Linked DNA regions of Homo sapiens. The protein of the gene in region 1 purifies or fractionates together with the protein of each later gene. This does not show direct contact. Each region holds a gene or a part of one and is shown on either strand. Other genes may lie near its edges.

Region 1 (3,649 bases):
AATATATAACTCTTCTTGAATTCAGTGCCCTTTATTGGGGGAGAGGTGACAGAGATGTGGTTCTTTGACAATGCTTAGAGTTTCTTTCACAGTGATTTGGGTTTTCAAATTCTCCTTGGATTTTTCTTTAAAGAAAAATTCCAATGTGATTTTAGTTACTGTTTTAGAACAGATCTGTGTCCCAGGGTAGAAGCTGGCCTTCCCACCCCAGAGGATACCTCCTCAACCCTGCCAAGCACCCATAGCCTCTCTCCCTAGTCCACCCCTTCCAGGGAGCCTCTGACGTGGCAGGCAGCATGCTAAAAGCTGCCAGTTGAAGGCCAGTGGTTTTATGAACATCCAGGGGTGAGAACAGTAGAATAGCCCCTGCTTTACTGATAGAGAAACTTATCCTTCAGTGGATTAACCCACTTACCCACACTGCTAATGAGAGGTGTAGGCAGGGCTCCAACCTCAGCCTGACTTCATGCTCCTGCTGCAGCCATCCCACAAAACTTCAGAGGTGTAGGCCAACCCCTAGAAACACTCCAACATCACACTGCCACATATGAGGTGGGGTCAAGGTCAAGTGGGAAATGTAGCAGTTGGAAGCACAATGGATATGTCAAAGTACCAGATGCATGAATTATGAAAGAAGATGCCTTGTAATCCCAGCACTTTGGGAGGCCGAGGTGGGCGGATCATGAGGTCAGGAGATTGAGACCATCCTGGCTAACACGGTGAAACCCCATCTCTACTAAAAGTACAAAAAATGTGCCGGGCATTGTGGCAGGCGCCTGTAGTCCCAGCTACTCAGGAGGCTGAGGCAGGAGAATGGCCTGAACCCGGGAGGCGGAGCTTGCAGTGAGCCGAGATCGCGCCACTGTACTCTAGCCTGGGCGACAGAGCGAGACTCCGTCTCAAAAAAAAAAAAGAAAGAAAGAAAGAAAGAAGATGCATGAATTTTGAAACAAGTGGTTGTTCCTTATTTGGGGACAGTGTAAAAAAAAAAAAGTAGTTTTCCTCTATGCAAGAAATAGGAGCAAAGAAAGTCCTTGAGTGCCCTCTTGTGGAGAGTCTCAGCTTGATCCCACCGCCCTGGCATTTGCTGAGCCTCCTCCCACCCAAAGTACAAGTTTAGGGGTTTTCCCCTCCTGCTCTGTCTCCAAGTCATGGCACATCCTTGTAATTTCAGACCCTTTTATAGGAATGTGCGACTGGCAAAGTGGGCATGTGGCATTTTACTGTTCATTTGCCCTGGACAGGCTCTGAACCAGCAGATGATGTGCTTACCAGGGCTTGACTTGCAGGGAGGAGCCAAGTGGTTGGTGTCCAGAGGTCCTGGGTTCAAGTCCTGTTCCCACTGCTCATTGGCTGTGTAGGATGGGGAAGACACTTGATTCTTGAGCCTCAGTTTTCCCTACCTGAAAATGGGAGACTAATATCTACCTCTCAGGGTGATTTGGGGATTAAAATAAGTAAAGCAATCCACAGAGAAGATTAGTTCAGGGCCTGGCACAGAGTAAGCACTTGCTAAACGATAGCTGGTGTTATTATCTGTTTGAGCTGGGTAAGTAGTCAGGTGCCTTGCTAAGGACAGTAGGCAGCAGGACCACAAGAACTGGTAGAACCCAAGGAAGGTTGGGTGGCTGTGCTGAATGGCTTGATAAAGGTGGGCCTGGGGTGTGTCACAGGGTCAAGCCACTTAAAAGGAGACCTGGGCTGATCTGGCTTTGGGGGTGGCAGGGCCGGCCCAAGCCTGGGAGATACAGGGTCATACCTAATCCATTCACCAGCAGCCTAGGACATCACTTTAGGCAGGTTACCTACCTCAGCCCACAGTCAATGCCCCTTACACTTGTCCCACCCATGGCAGCACTTAATGGACACAATTTTTGTTTTTAGAGGCAGGGTCTCGCTCTGTTGCCCAGGCTGGAATGCAGTGGGGCAATCATAGCTCACTGCAGCCTCCAACTCCTGGGCTCAAGCTCAAGTGATCCTCCAGCCTCAGCCTCCCAAGTAGCTATGACTGAGCCACGATATCCAGCTAATTTTTTTTTCATTTTTGTAGAGACAGGGTCTTGCTGTGTTGCCTAGGCTGGTCTCAAACTCTGGGCCTCAAGTGGTCCTCCCACCTCAGCCTCCCAAAACACTGGGTTTACAGGCATAGGCCACCACATGCAGCTCACAATGTCATCTAAATACAATTTGTACCTGTCTTGGGATGGGGGGCTATTCTCTGGGATGACAGGGACCTGGACAAGTGGACATAGGGCAAAGAAAGACTGAATAATGGGCAGGGGGCGGGGAGGAAGGGAGCTTCCAAGTGAGACAGTGCCAGGATGCCTTACACCTTTGAGGGTCCATGCAGCTTGTTGAGGTGGGCTTGATTTCCTGGAGGCTGGGACAGGAGCTAGGGACCTGACCCATCAGTGAGGAGGGAGGGCCAGGCCCACCAGGGTAGCAGCCTGGGTCCCGATGGCCCCCAGTTAGAGAGTTTATGGGTGACCCATTCATAGGGGCTTCCTGAGGGTGTGAGGACTGCTGAGAGCTCTCCCAGAGAGACCCAACCCTCAGGGCTTAAGTTGGGGTGGTGGGGCCACGAAGTGGGCCCAGGCTTTGATGGACCCTCAGGAGTGTAAGGGGGAAGAGTGGCTAAGAGTTTCTGCTTGGATTTCCCATCTTGGGCTCAACCCATGGCCCTTGATGCTCCCTAGTTATGTGGCCTTAGACAAATCACTCTTAACCTCTTCAGCCCTGTTTGCTGAGCAGTAAGCTGGGGTCAGGATGCATCTGTCTGCACAGTGATGTGGAGGAGGATTAAATTAGGTGATGTGTTAAGTGCTTAGCACAGTATCCTGAGCATAGAAAACCCTTATGAGAGCCCAAAGGAGAAAAAATTAAAAGATTTGGACCCAGGCCCAAGGAGTGATGGTGGTGGTGCTGATGGGGTGGGTGTGGTGGAAATAGGGAGGCCTGGACACAACCTGGTTATCAGCACAGAGGTCTGGGCAGAACTCACCTCCCTCCCAACTTCACACCCTGTGGGCAGAGCAGAGAGCCTCCCATTGGCCCCTTACCTGGTCCTGGCTGAGGATGTTCTGCAGAGGCAGAGGCCTAGGCAGGACAGCACCGGGCTGCTGGGGCTTAGGGATGGCACCCCCTCCAGCGCTTTTTCTCTGCTTTCCTCCAAGGCTGCATTCGCGATTCTATGAGCTGGCCCCCAACCTCGTCCCAATGGACTACAGGAAGAGCCCCATCGTCCACGTGCCCATGAGCCTCATCATCCAGATGCCAGAGCTCCGGGTATGTGCAGGACCTCTTGCTGGCGAGCAGGGGATCTGTGCCTCTGGACCAGCAGCAGAGGCCCCCAGGTCTAGGCTGAACCCAGCTCCACCCTTTGTGTCTGCGTGGCTCTGAGCAGATCACAGAACCTCTCTGTGCCTCAGTTTCCTCATCTGTACTCTGAATAAATAAGCTATGTGGGCTCTGTAAGGGTGCTGTACATCAGTGGCCACCCAACTGCAGGCCATGGGCTTGTGCTCATTTGCTTGTCCCTTTGTTAAGTGGCCCCAAGCCTGCTGTAGTTGGCAGACCTGTGTCTGCTTTGTTAGATAACTTTTCTGTCTCCCCGTTGTCTGGCTGTGGCTTCTCACTGAGGTCAGCATGG
Region 2 (3,649 bases), on another chromosome or scaffold:
CCCTTACTGACTTTCCTGGTCCTGAGTTCTGACCTGCCCTCAGCGGGTGTCTAGCCCTGCTTCCATCCTAAGAAGGAGGGAGGGAACTCCCTCAGGGAGTGCAGGAGCAGTTGGGGGGGGGGGGTCCCTGAAAGGCACTCACATGCAGTTCCTGGCCGCCAGGTCCCGGTGTATGAATCTCTTGGTACTCAGATACTCCATGCCACTGGCGATGTCTGCCATGAACTTCACTAGCATCTGAGTGGGCAGGTACTGGGGAGCCAAGGCAGGTGGGAGGAGAGGTCAACAGAGTCCTTGATGCGATCCCTCCTCCCTCCATCCCTCTGTGCAAGCCTAGCTCTGCCCGCAGTGGTTTCCCATGGCCCTGACAATTCAACCCAACCCCTCTCCATGGCCTGCAAGGTCCTATAAACTTGCTCCAGCCTTCCTCTTGGACTTGATTGCCTATGTTCTTGCCCTTGACTGACACTCCCACCAGACTCCTGTCTGGTCTTCAGACAAACGATGATCATTCCCACCTCCGAGCCTTTGCCTATGCTGTGCGCTCTGTTGGGGTCGCTTCCTGCCCAGATCTCCAGACATCTCCCCAGCCCCAACTCCTTCACGGTCACCTCCTCGGCAAGATCTTCCACGTCCACCCAAATTCACTGCCTGGCCTCCTTATCTTCCATCCTACTGTATTTCCTTCCTAGCACTTAAACATTTAAATCATCTCGCTTAGGTATTTATTAGCTTGTTTATCATCCGCCCCTCCCCTGCTGGAAGAAATGCTCCAGGAGAGCAAGCTCCTGGTCACCGTGGTCTTCCCAGGGTCTGAGCAGCACTGGGTACCTGATAGATGCTCAGTTAATATTTGTAGACTGAATGATTAAACGCCCCTTACCACTGGCTGGTCCCCGAGCCGGGAATAGAGGAGGAAGCTGTGTAGGTCTCCATGTTTCATGAAAGGTAAGATGACCACAGGTGCTGGGAAGCTCTCTCGTTCAGAACCCTGGAAACAGACACCTGAGCCCCCCAGGTAGCCCTGTCACTCCTGCTGGGCAGAAGGGGAAGCCAAGCCCCCCACCAGCCAGCCTCCAGCCTCTCCTTCTCACTACCCATCCAATCTGGCCACCATATTGTTTGGGGGTAGTGGCAGTGGCAAGGACCAAGCTGCAGAGAAGCTGTTTCCAGCAGAGTTCCCAGGGACGTTTCCGGAGCCCTCCTGGGGACCTCAGCTATTTCTGGGAATGATCAGAGGTCACATTCCAAGCTGAGGGAGACTAGGAGGGGGAAGCCTGCTGACCCTGAAGGAGCGGGGAGCAGGAAGCCTGGAAGTTTGATCTTCCCAGGGCCAGAAGCAGGGCTCTTCCCTCTGCTATGGCCCCCATGGGGCTTGTAGACCCCTTGAATCTGCCCCTCTCTCACCGATGAGCCTCATGACGTTGGGATGGTCAAATTCCTTCATGCAGACCGCTTCACTCAGGAAATCCTCCAGCTCTGACCTCGTGCAGATGGCAACTTGAGGGAGAGAGAAAGGTCGTGAGGAGGAGGGGAGGAGAGGGAGGACTCTCCCTCCACCTCCACTCCATCATCATCATCATCATCATCATCACTCATCTTCATCAAACATGATTAGTAAGTACCAGGCACCATACTCAGCACTTTATATGTGATATGTGTATGTGTGTGTGTCTGTGTGTGTGTATATAATATATATATATATATAAAATATATATTTTCTTTTTTTTTTTTTTTTTAGATGGAGTCTCACTCTGTTGTCCAGGCTGGAGTGCAGTGGTTTGATCTCGGGTCACTGCAACCTCCGCCTCTCGGGTTCAAGCAATTCTCCTGCCTCAGCCTCCTGAGTAGCTGGGACTACAGGCGTGTGCCACCACACCCGGCTAATTTTTTGTATTTTTAGTAGAGACGGGGTTTCACCTTGTTAGCCAGGATGGTTTCGATCTCCTGACCTCACGATCTGCCCGCCTCGGCCTCCCAAAGTGCTAGGATTACAGGCGTCAGCCACTGCGCTTGGCCAACTTTATATATATTAACTCATTTAATCTTCTCAGGTGCTACTATTATCATTCCCATTTTATTGGTTTTTTGTTTTGTTTTGTTTTGTTTTTGTTTTTGTTTTTTATTTTTATTTTTTGAGACAGGGTCTTGCGCTGTCACCCAGGATGGATGCAATCACAGCAAACATAGCTCACTGGAGGTTAGGCTCGAACTCCTAGGCTTGCCTTCCTGAGTAGCTGGGACCACAGGCACGCACCACCATCCCGGATAATTTTTTTTTTTTTTTTGAGATGGAGTTTCGCCCTTGTCCCCCAGGCTTGAGTGCAATGGCGCAATCTTGGCTCACTGCAACCTCTGCCTCCCCAGTTCAAGAGATTCTCGTACCTCAGCCTCCCGAGTAGCTGGGATTACAGGCATGCACCACCATGCCCAGCTAATTTTTGTATTTTTAGTAGAAACGGGGTTTCACCATGTTGGCCAGGCTGGTCTCAAACTCCCCACCTCAAGTGATCTGCCTGCCTTGGCCTCCCAAAGTGCTAGGATTTCAAGTGTGAGCCACCATGCCCAGCCAATTTTTTGAGAGGGAGTCTTGCTATGTTGTCCAGGCTGGTCTCAAACTCCCAGCCTCAAGTGATCCTCCCACCTCGGCCTCCCAAAGCACTGGGATTACAGGCATGAGCCACTGTCCCTGGCCTATCTCTATTTTAAAGATGAAGAAAGCAAGGCACAAAAAGGTTAGGAGTCTGCCTAAGGGAACACACAGCTTGGAGGTGGAAGAGGCAGATCTCAAACCCGGGCAGTCTGGCTCCAGGGTCCACCTGCTCACAACTGCCCAGGCTGCTTCCCAGCACTTCCCTACCTGCCCTGGGGACCCAAACAAGTATCATCCCATTTAACAGTTCAGGACACTGTGGCTCACAGAGGCAAAATGACTTGCCCAAGGTTGCACGGCTGAGATTCAGACCCAGGCCAAGACTATAACCAGTGGGAGGCTGAGTGGGGAGGATCGCTTGAGCCTCAGAGGTTGAGACTACAGTGAGCTGTGATCCTGCCACTGCTCTCCAGCATGGGCAACGAGCAAGACTCTGTCTCAAAAAACAAAAAACGTAGGCTGGGTGTGGTGGCTCACACCTGTAATCCCAGCACTTTGGGATGCCGAGGCAGGTGGATCATGAGGTCAAGAGATAGAGACCATCCTGGCCAACATGGTGAAACCCCGTCTCTACTAAAAACACAAAAATTAGCTGGGCGTGGTGGCGCACACCTGTAGTCCCAGTTACTCAGGAGGCTGAGGCAGAAGAATCGCTTGAACCTGGGAGGCAGAGGTAGTAGTTAGCTGAGGTCATGCCACTGCACTCCAGCCTGGACAGCAGAGTGAGACTCCTCCTCAAAACAAAACAAAACAGAGCAAAACAAACAAAATAACCTGGTACACAGGAGGTGCTCCATAATGAACGAATGAGTGGGTAATGACTTCATAGCCCAAGCTTTTAAGCCCTGTAATTCAGAAAGGATCATTCTCTATTCACCACCAGCCCCAATCTGAATGCCCTATGCTTCTCCTTCCCTGTGTGTGAAGAACTTAGCCCTGGACTTCCTGTGCTGTGTAACCCTGAAATGGCTCCTGCCCTCTCTGATAATGGAAATA

Evidence for each region.
Region 2: the proteins of CIB2 (region 1) and AXL purify together in Homo sapiens (affinity purification with mass spectrometry; one large-scale study listed by BioGRID and IntAct). This does not show direct contact.

Annotation. Positions count from the first base shown.
Region 1 is NC_000015.10:78,110,801-78,114,449, reverse strand, and holds part of CIB2 (calcium and integrin-binding family member 2), read left to right. Parts: intron 1-3,173; coding exon 3,174-3,285; intron 3,286-3,649. UniProt on the Homo sapiens protein: Calcium- and integrin-binding protein that plays a role in intracellular calcium homeostasis. Acts as an auxiliary subunit of the sensory mechanoelectrical transduction (MET) channel in hair cells.
Region 2 is NC_000019.10:41,250,202-41,253,850, reverse strand, and holds part of AXL (tyrosine-protein kinase receptor UFO isoform 1 precursor), read right to left. Parts: intron 1,501-3,649; coding exon 1,408-1,500; intron 1,006-1,407; coding exon 884-1,005; intron 253-883; coding exon 143-252; intron 1-142. UniProt on the Homo sapiens protein: Receptor tyrosine kinase that transduces signals from the extracellular matrix into the cytoplasm by binding growth factor GAS6 and which is thus regulating many physiological processes including cell survival, cell proliferation, migration and differentiation.